Linked DNA regions of Homo sapiens: region 2 is linked to region 1. The links come from fine-mapping of genetic effects on gene expression. A gene starts in region 1. The other region holds a variant in brackets. All regions are shown on one strand. Distances are from middle to middle.

The links. PIP is the estimated chance that this variant, and not a neighbour inherited with it, causes the effect.
Region 2: its variant is the best candidate, but not a certain one, in a credible set for the expression of ITGB3 in whole blood (INTERVAL, PIP 0.60).

What each region holds. Positions count from the first base shown.
Region 1 is chr17:47,251,103-47,256,360 of GRCh38, forward strand. ITGB3 (integrin subunit beta 3) reads left to right here and starts at 2,725. Exons shown (of 15, transcript NM_000212.3): 1 at 2,725-2,838. The coding sequence starts at 2,760. RefSeq lists a silencer at 2,520-2,779.
Region 2 is chr17:47,306,160-47,311,641 of GRCh38, forward strand. It overlaps ITGB3 (integrin subunit beta 3), which reads left to right. Exons shown (of 15, transcript NM_000212.3): 14 at 1,312-1,478; 15 at 3,980-5,482. The coding sequence ends at 4,045. The region is part of intron 2 of EFCAB13-DT (EFCAB13 divergent transcript); the gene reads right to left. Among named protein-coding and RNA genes, the nearest start is that of EFCAB13-DT, 15 kb to the right of the region's middle. The variant C/G (reference allele first, on the strand shown) is at 2,764.

The DNA of each region.
Region 1 (5,258 bases):
AGTATTTTGTAACTCTTCTGTAAGTATTAATGATTTCAAAATAAAAAGTTAGGGAAAAAAATCCAGGAGGAGAAGAAAGAGAAACAAGAATATAAAGGATGGCAGACTTCTCACCAGAGATGATGGAGACAGCAAACAGCAGACCATCTTTAATGTACTTGAAGAGACAAGTCTCAATCAATTTAGAAGTTTATTTGGCCAAGGTTAAGCACATGCCCATGACATAGCCTCAGGAAGTCCTGAAGACACGTGCCCAAGGTGGTCAGGCTACAGCTCAGTTTTATACATTTTAGGGAGACAAAAGACATCAATCAATACATGTACATTGAACATTGGTTCAGTCCAGAAAGGCAGGACATCTGACACAGGGACTTCCAGGTTAGAGACGGATTCAAAGATTTTTTCATTGGCAATTGGTTGTAAGTGTTATTATCTAAAGACCTAGAACCAACAGAAAGGAATGTCTGAGTTAGGATAAAGGGTTGTGGAGACCAAACTTTTATCATGCAGATGAAGCCAGAGGCTTCAGACAGAATAGACTGTTAATGTTTCTTATCAGACTTAGAGAGTCTATTCTATCAGCCTTAAGGTCTTTGTGTTGATGCTAATGCTGGTCAGCTGTGAGGCATATTCAACCACCACCCCCCCTCCACCTTCCCCAAACCTGCTTCACATCATGGTCTGAACTAGTTTTTCAGATTAACTTTGGAATGCCCTTGGCTGAGAGGAAGGGTTAGTTCAGACAGTTGTGGGGGGGCTTATAATGTTATTTTTAGTTTACAGGTTCTTACAATTTACATAGAATTGTTCAATATTAATTCAACATAGGCTACTGTATGATAAGTTAAGGAGGAATATTGTAATACCTAGAGCAAACACACACACACACACACACACACACACACACACATGCAAACGAGGTGTAGCTAGGAAGCCAGTAGAGAAAAAAAAATTATCCCAAAAGAAAGCAGAAAAAGAGAAACAGAGAAACCAGCCAAAAAGATAGAACGAATAACAAGATAGTAAATGTAAACACAACCATCAATTACTATACTAAATGTGAATGGACTAGCTCCTTTGCCTTCCCTGGGGCTGGGAGTGCAGGATGGACTCACTTGCACAATTATGTCATGTTTGCTAGGGCTTGGGCTAGGGTTGTGGACTTAGCATACTTGCTGAGGCCAGTGCCCACCCCAAGTGGTTGCTGACAGCAGGGATAGGCTAAGGAGACACCTAAGTGGCTGGAGATTGGTTTTATATATATGGGAATGGAGCAGATAACTAAATACTTAGGCAGAGATGTAACCAGGCCATGTGACCTGAACTTTGCTCCAGGGCATTGACACTGCTGTTAAAATGCTTCTGGCCTAGAGGCCCTCTGCAGCCAGGGGAGGTAGATGGAGCTTCAGCCTGAAAACCCAGGTCAGAGGGCCCAAGTACCCTTTGCAGAGCTGGCTTTTCCCCTTGCAAATTGCTAGTGACGCTTCAGCTGATGTGTGTTACTATTAAGGTCCTAGTGTTTGGGAGGGTGGGGCAGGAGGTGGAGGATTGTCAGAAAAAAATTACATGGAAAAAGATGGCATCTGAGATGTTTTGAAAGATAAGTGGAATTTTCCAAGTGGAAAAAGGAAGGAAAATCAGTCAGATAGGAAGGCATGGAGCATTGGGGAATGACAAGTATCTTCTTGGACTAGGGTGGGAGATGGGCTGGAGAGATGGGTCAGGGCCAGTTGTCTGGCATCTTGTGTGTCTCAGAAGAGGGTGGGCACGCTGCGTAGGGAAGCCCAGGGCCACTCTGAAAGCCCTAAAGGGGAACTGATGCCTCTGGCCTTGTTTTTATCACCATCAGGACTACCCATTGAGGCAGGCTGCACTACCAGCTACTTCCTGGTGCCCTCTTGCTCATAGCCATAGTATTTTGCCTCTCTGAGCTTCCAGAGGTTTTAAGTCTGGGGAAGACCCAGGGACTCAAAGAAAGATTGGGGTGGGAGATAAGGGGCCACAGTTTGGGGGAGTCAGGCAGGAGGCCTTTGAGGAAAATAGATAAAGTCCCAAAGCCTGTGAGTGTGAATTTGGAGGCAATATGCTGTGTTCTGAAACGTTTTCAGACACTGGCTAGGTGCAAGCAAGTGTTTGTAGGGCGAGGCTCTTCATGGACCTATCACTGCTTACGCAAGCTTGGGATGTGGTCTTGCCCTCAACAGGTAGGTAGTCTACCGGAAAACCAAACTAAGGCAAGAAAAAAATTAGTGAATAATAAAGGACTGAACCGGTTCAGAGAAGGCATTCAGCAGATGTTTGCCAGTCAAATGAATTAAAGTGTGAATGAATGAAACTCGAGGTAGTGGGTGAATGTGTCCCAAGAATCCAGCGAAACAGGGTCTCCCAGGAGGCGGGACTGGAAGGGTCCGGAGAGGGGCCACAGGCTCCTGGCCTTTCTAAGCACACCAAGTGCCCAGTCGCGGACCCCCGGGACCAGGATGCGCTGACGACCCGGCTGGCAGGCGGGTCCTCGTGGGCGAGGCGAGGGAGGCGGCGAGAGAGGAGCAATAGTTTCCCACCGCTCCCTCTCAGGCGCAGGGTCTAGAGAAGCGCGAGGGGATCTAGAGAAGCCGGAGGGGAGGAAGCGCGAGTCCGCGGCCCGCCCCGTTGCGTCCCACCCACCGCGTCCCCTCCCCTCCCCTCCCGCTGCGGGAAAAGCGGCCGCGGGCGGCGGCGCCCACTGTGGGGCGGGCGGAGCGCCGCGGGAGGCGGACGAGATGCGAGCGCGGCCGCGGCCCCGGCCGCTCTGGGCGACTGTGCTGGCGCTGGGGGCGCTGGCGGGCGTTGGCGTAGGAGGTGAGTGAGGCTCCGGCTCGGCAGCGTCGCAGCTGCCCCAGGATCTGCGCCCCGGTCAAGTTGCGGACTTGGAGCCGGCAAACGCGGAGGGCTGGTCCCGCGCGTCTGCGCTGGGAATGCGCGTGTCCTGGCTGGCGCGGTCGGAGCCGGGAGCTGGGGACCTTCCTGGCCCGGCGGTGGCGGGGCTGAGAGGTGCCTGGTGCCTGGGAGCGGGTCCTCCGAGACGCCGAAGCCATCAGCCAGGCTGAGCGCCTTCCCGGCCGCCGCGGCGCGCACGGTGCGGTGGGCGCATCTCTGAGCCCCGCGCTCACCCGGGGCTGCGCGCGTCGCGGGTGGTCCTGGTCGGGCCAAGGACGACTGGCCCAGGAGCCAAGGCGAGGTGGGGCTTCCGGGGGTTGTTCCCGCGCCTTGGCAGAGGGATGCCGCTGTAGCTTCCTGGGTGAGAGCGTGCGCGCGCGCGGGTTTGCCAGTTTCCCCACATTTCCAATTTCTCCTGTTACGCTTTCTCCAGAAGGTTTTTTCTTTTCCTTTTTTCTTTCTTTCTTTCTTTTTTTTACCTTCAACTTGGCTTCCTGCGGGGTTGTTTTGGAGCAGGATGAGGGCTTTGCCTCCTCCAGTGTCCCCAGGTGGCAGCGGTGCCTCTGCTCCCAGGGCAGACCCTGCACCCGAAAAATCTCTAGTGTATTCGGGGAGCCATGAAAAGGCTCCCTTGGGCCGGTGGGATCCTTGGCTTTGTCTCTGGCTGCTGCGCACACCGTCAGCCGTCAGGGCAATTGGCATTCGGCCTCTTTGGTACTGGGGACACAGGTGGAGGGATGGAGCGGGCACAGCCCGGGGTTGCTGCCCGTGGTCCTCTCTGAGTCCTTGGTGATTTTGCCTGGGCTGGAGAGAAACCCTGGCTCCTGGTCTGCTGGGGCCGCCTCTGCCTCAGAGGATGACACAAGAGTGCATGTAAGTATTTTTAATAAAAACTGTAGTACTCGTAAAACAATCTACACCCTGCAGAAGGGATTTGTTATTTTATTTTATTATTTATTTATTTATTTATTTATTTTTGAGACGGAGTCTTGCTCTGTCGCCCAGGCTGGAGTGCAGTGGTGGGTTCTCGGCTCACTGCAACTTCTGCCTCCTGGGTTTAAGCGATTCTTCTGGCTCAGCCTCCCGAGTAGCTGGGATTACAGGCGCCTGCCACCACGGCCGGCTAATTTTTGTATTTTTAGTAGAGACGCGGTTTCACCATGTTGGCCAGGCTGGTCTGGAGCTCCTGGCCTCAAGTGATCCGCCCACCTCAGCCTCCCAAAGTGCTGGGAATACAGGCGTGAGCCACCGCACCTGGCCAGGATTTATTTTAAAAAGGGAAGATTTGTTGATAAATTCACTTCAAAGATAAACTATTCGAAAATACTTTAGTGATTCCCGTCAAGACTCTTCTGTGTATGTATAGACGTATAACTCATTCTGGACAGGGCAAGGATATCTTTTTTTGTTTGTTTGTTTGTTTTGAGATGGACTCTCGCTGTCGCCAGGCTAGAGTGCAGTGGCGCGATTTCAGCTCACTGCAACCTCCGCTTCCCGGGTTCAAGGGATTCTCCTGCCTCAGCCTCCCGAGTAGCTGGGATTACAGGCACGCACCACCACGCCCTACTAATTTTTGTATTTTTAGTAGAGACGGGATTTCCCCATGTTGGCCAGGATGATCTCGATCTCTTGACCCCGTGATCAGCCTGCCTTGGCCTCCCAAAGTGCTGGGATTACAGGCGTGAGCCACCGCACCCGGCCAAGGGTATCTTGAAGGAGGGATTACAGTTGATATGTAGAGGAATATTGCAGTGGTTATTGCTGCATTTCCTATGTGACTGGGACTAAAACAGATCAGCTGATAGTGTTAGCGTGCAGTGAGCAGTCTGATGACTATGACACAGAAATAAGAATCTCCAGCATTCTGCCCTGGGACATGTGGAGCCTTGGGTCAGATGCTGCTGGCTATTGATGCCGGGAATGGAGAAATCCACCAGGGCAACTCAGTAAAAATAAATAAATAAATAAATAAATAAATACATAATTAAAAAAAGGGTATCCTTGTCCTGTCCAGGATGAGATGCTTGCTTCCATGCACTTACGACAATTTTTGCTGTCATTAAAAAATTTTCACATTCACAGTCTTCTAAATTCACTTTGGAGTGTATTGGATTCCACTGCATTGACATACGTAAGTTTGCATTAAAAGATCCTTTAAGATATCTGGTCAGGCACGGTGGCTCACGCCTGTAATCCCAGCACTTTGGGAAGTGGAGGTAGAAGGATTGCTTGAGCCCAGGAGTTCGAGACCAGCTTGGGCAACATAGTGAGACCTAATCTCTACTAAAAATTAAAAAAAAATCCTTAGGCGATCTGTTCACAGATTAATCTTGTGATTGGGG
Region 2 (5,482 bases), 55 kb after region 1:
GGTGGGGATTCTGGTAAACTAGAAAACATGAGTTCCAACTAAAAGGAGCAGCTCCTCCTCAGCTCTAGCTAACTGCTGCTCTGCAGGAATATAAGAATCTCTCTCTTTCTGTATTTCTCTCTTTCTTTCTTTTGAGATAGTCTCTCCCTCTGTCATCCAGGCTGGAGAGCAGTGGCACGATCATGGCTCACTATGACCTTGACCTCCCAGGCTCAAACGATCCTCCCACCTCAGCATCCTGAGTAGCTGGGACTACAGGCATATGCCACAATGCCTGGCTAATTAAAAAAGACAATTTTGTAGAGGCAGAGCCTCACTATGTTGCCCAGGCTGGTCTTGAACTTCTGGACTCAAGCTGTCCTCCTGCCTCGGCCTCCCAAGTGCTGGCATTATAGGCATGAGCCACTGGGCCTGGCCTGGATTTTCTTTTTAAAGAGACTAATATGAAATTTTAGGGGGAGAATCTCCTGATTATTCAATATTGCCAATAAAGTCAATTTTTTATTTCTTATTCATTTATTTATTTATTTATTTATTTTGAGATGGAGTTTTGCTCTGTTACCCAGGCTGGAGTGTAATGGTGTGATCTCGGTTCACTGCAACCTCTACCTCCCAGGTTCAAGTGATTCTGTGCTTCAGCCTCCCAAGTAGCTGGGATTACAGGTGCTCGCCACCATGCTAGGCTAATTTTTGTAGTTTTAGTAGAGATGGGGTTTCACCATGTTGGCCAGGCTGGTCTCAAACTCCTGACCTCAGGTGCTCTGCCCACCTTGGCCTCCCAAAGTGCTGGGATTACAGGTGTGAGCCACCACACTCGGCTTTTTATTTTTAATTTTTTAAAAAACTTTTATTTTTGCTTTAGGGGTACATGTGTGGGTTTGTTCCGTAGATAAACTGTGAGTCATGGGGGTCTGGTGTACCTATTATTTCATCACCCAGGTAATAAGCATAGTGACTCATAGGTAGTTTTTCGATCCCCACCTCCTCCCCGTCTCCACCCTCAAGTAGGTCCCAGTGTCTGGTGTTCTCTTCTTTGTGTTTAATTTTTAAAATAAACACTTGGGTGAACCCCCACACAAAGGTGTGGCTGGGTTCTGTCTAGGGGTTACCAGGTCTAGACTTCTGATTTGAGCCACTCAGTGCAGATTATTGCTGTCCTAATGATTGTCTCCTTAAAAAAATTAATTTTTGAAAACTGTCCTATTTCCTTCAAGGACCTTAGTTACTTTGTCAAGAACACCTTTTTCATAGCCAGTTCAAGTGACTCCTGCTTCATTCACAACCGCCCTGCTCTGTGCTTCTTCCTCACAGAGTGTCCCAAGGGCCCTGACATCCTGGTGGTCCTGCTCTCAGTGATGGGGGCCATTCTGCTCATTGGCCTTGCCGCCCTGCTCATCTGGAAACTCCTCATCACCATCCACGACCGAAAAGAATTCGCTAAATTTGAGGAAGAACGCGCCAGAGCAAAATGGGACACAGTAAGAGACGGGGCTGGGCGTTTTCTAAAGTCATTGGTCTGAGACTCTTAAGTGGAAGCAGCAGATGCTTTGGGTGGTCATGTTCAGCCAGTACCATCGTCTTTCCATTATCCTCTGTTCTGGAAACTGGGAGAGATGGTCTCACTATCCCCTTGTCCTTCAGCTTCCTTCAGCCTCTTAGAAATAGTGGCAGGATGTCATTCCATCTCATTCTCTTCTTTCTCCTCAAATAAATGGTTACTTCCAGGCTGGGCCTGGTGGCGCGTGCCTGTAATCCCAGCACTTTGAGAGGCCAAGGTGGGCAGATCACTTGAGCTCAAGAGTTCGAGACCAGCCTGGGCAACATGGTGAAACCCCGTCTCTATTAATAATATAAAAATTAGCCGGGTGTGGTGGTGCATGCCTGTAATCCCAGCTATTCGGGAGGCTGAAGCAGGAGGATTGCTTGAACCCAGTAGGTAGAGGTTGTAGTGAGCTGAGATTGCACCCTGCTCTGGGTGACAGAGCAGGACTCGGTCTCAAAAATAATAATAATAATAATAATAATAATAAAATAAAATAAAAGGTTACTTCCAAATCAGACTCTACTCTTTTATCCTGATTTATTCCAATTAAATAAGCATTTACTGAGAACTTTCTATATACTTAATCTTACTCTATTCTCTTTTGGCTCTTCTTTCACATTTCAACTTTTTTCCTCGACCCTCCAAATGGCTATTTGACTCCCCAAATGTCCAGAGTTAGGCTGCAAGTTTGTTCCCATTTGATGTTGACCCCAGAGCTTTATACTCAAGGGTCCCAAGAAACTGAGATGTTTCTGTTAGAACAGTGTGGAACATCCTGTACCTATGAGGCCCACAGGAATGTGTTTCTTTCTCTTTTTTTTTGGAGACAGAGTCTTGCTCTGTCACCCAGGCTTGAGTGTAGCGATCTTGGCTCACTGCAACCTTGGCCTCTCAGGTTCAAGTGATTCTCCTGCCTCAGCCTCCCAAGTAACTGGATTACAGGCGCCAGCCACTGTGCCCAGCTATTTTTTGTATTTTTAGTAGCGACGGGGTTTCACCATGTTGGCCAGGCTGGTCTCGAACTCCTGACCTCGTGATCACCCGCCTCGGCCTCCCAAAGTGCTAGGATTCCAGGCGTGAGCCACTGCGCCTGGCTAAGAATGTGTTTCTTGAAGCTACCATTATAGGATTTGTTACTTTCTGTTGGAAAATAGTTTGGGAAACCTAGTGAGGGTCTTACTTTTTCCTGATAACATGACAGTTTGTGGATAGTGCTTTCT[C/G]TTTCTCTCCCCTCCTCTCCCATTCCCTCCCCTCCCCTCCCCTCTCCTCCCCTCCCCTTCCTTTTACGCTTCCTCCCCTCCCCTTCCCTTCCTCCCCTCCTCTCCTTTTCTTTCCCTTCCCTTCCCTCCTTCCTTCTTTTTTTGAGACAGGGTCTCGCTCTGTCACCCATGCTGGAGTGCAGTGGTGCCATCATGGCTCAATGCAGCCTCCATCTCCTGGGCTCAAGTGATCCTCCCACCTCACCCTCCCAAGTAGCCAGGACTACAGGCACACATCACCGAGCCAGCTAATTTTTGTATTTTTTTCCCTTGTAGAGACAGGGTCTCACTCTGTTACCCAGGCTGGTCTAGAACTCCTGGGCTCAAGTGATCTTCCTACCTTGGCCCCTAAAAGTGCTGGGATTATAGGCATAAACCACCATGCCTGGCCATGGTTAGTGCTTGGCCAGATTAGATGAAAACAAATTAATAATTATTTGAGCAAAAGCTTTCCTCTGTGTTCTGAATTGCACCTGATACATTTCTGTCCCTTGTCCACATCTCCTATCACTGTCACAGGGAATGGAAAATAGGAGAAGGGCAAAAGAGACGGGGACACAGGGGTGAAATAGGAGAGGTTCTATCCCCGAATGCTGTGGAATCACTGAAGAGTGATAGGCTGAATATAGCTCCTTAGAAATAGTGGCAGGGAACAGGTGTGGTGGCTCATGCCTGTAATTCCAGCACTTTGGGAGGCTGAGGCAGGTGGATCGCTTGAGCTCAGGAGTTTGAGACCAGCCTGGGCAACATGAAGAAACCCCATCTCTACAAAAAAATGCAAAAATTAGCCAGACATGGTGGTGTGTGCCTGTAGTCCCAGCTACTTGGGAGGCTGAGGTGGGAGGATGTCTTGAGTCAGGGGAGGTGGAGGTTTCAGTAAGCCGAGATTGTGCCACTGCACTCCAGCCTGGGCAACAAAATGAGACCCTGTCTGAAAAAAAAAAAAAAAAAAAGAAACGGTGGCAGGATGGCATTCTACCTCATCTCCTCCTGTTATTTCCTATCAATTCCCATGCCAAGAACTAAAGTGTGAGCAAAATGAACATTATTCTGTTTCATTGATGATGTATTCCAGAGAACGGTGCCTTGGGAAAACTTCTGAGATGAATTTTAAACATTCAGGGTAGGGAAGGACTTAAGGAAGTCACTGTAAGATGCTATTCTGTTTCCTCCACAGGCCAACAACCCACTGTATAAAGAGGCCACGTCTACCTTCACCAATATCACGTACCGGGGCACTTAATGATAAGCAGTCATCCTCAGATCATTATCAGCCTGTGCCACGATTGCAGGAGTCCCTGCCATCATGTTTACAGAGGACAGTATTTGTGGGGAGGGATTTGGGGCTCAGAGTGGGGTAGGTTGGGAGAATGTCAGTATGTGGAAGTGTGGGTCTGTGTGTGTGTATGTGGGGGTCTGTGTGTTTATGTGTGTGTGTTGTGTGTGGGAGTGTGTAATTTAAAATTGTGATGTGTCCTGATAAGCTGAGCTCCTTAGCCTTTGTCCCAGAATGCCTCCTGCAGGGATTCTTCCTGCTTAGCTTGAGGGTGACTATGGAGCTGAGCAGGTGTTCTTCATTACCTCAGTGAGAAGCCAGCTTTCCTCATCAGGCCATTGTCCCTGAAGAGAAGGGCAGGGCTGAGGCCTCTCATTCCAGAGGAAGGGACACCAAGCCTTGGCTCTACCCTGAGTTCATAAATTTATGGTTCTCAGGCCTGACTCTCAGCAGCTATGGTAGGAACTGCTGGGCTTGGCAGCCCGGGTCATCTGTACCTCTGCCTCCTTTCCCCTCCCTCAGGCCGAAGGAGGAGTCAGGGAGAGCTGAACTATTAGAGCTGCCTGTGCCTTTTGCCATCCCCTCAACCCAGCTATGGTTCTCTCGCAAGGGAAGTCCTTGCAAGCTAATTCTTTGACCTGTTGGGAGTGAGGATGTCTGGGCCACTCAGGGGTCATTCATGGCCTGGGGGATGTACCAGCATCTCCCAGTTCATAATCACAACCCTTCAGATTTGCCTTATTGGCAGCTCTACTCTGGAGGTTTGTTTAGAAGAAGTGTGTCACCCTTAGGCCAGCACCATCTCTTTACCTCCTAATTCCACACCCTCACTGCTGTAGACATTTGCTATGAGCTGGGGATGTCTCTCATGACCAAATGCTTTTCCTCAAAGGGAGAGAGTGCTATTGTAGAGCCAGAGGTCTGGCCCTATGCTTCCGGCCTCCTGTCCCTCATCCATAGCACCTCCACATACCTGGCCCTGTGCCTTGGTGTGCTGTATCCATCCATGGGGCTGATTGTATTTACCTTCTACCTCTTGGCTGCCTTGTGAAGGAATTATTCCCATGAGTTGGCTGGGAATAAGTGCCAGGATGGAATGATGGGTCAGTTGTATCAGCACGTGTGGCCTGTTCTTCTATGGGTTGGACAACCTCATTTTAACTCAGTCTTTAATCTGAGAGGCCACAGTGCAATTTTATTTTATTTTTCTCATGATGAGGTTTTCTTAACTTAAAAGAACATGTATATAAACATGCTTGCATTATATTTGTAAATTTATGTGATGGCAAAGAAGGAGAGCATAGGAAACCACACAGACTTGGGCAGGGTACAGACACTCCCACTTGGCATCATTCACAGCAAGTCACTGGCCAGTGGCTGGATCTGTGAGGGGCTCTCTCATGA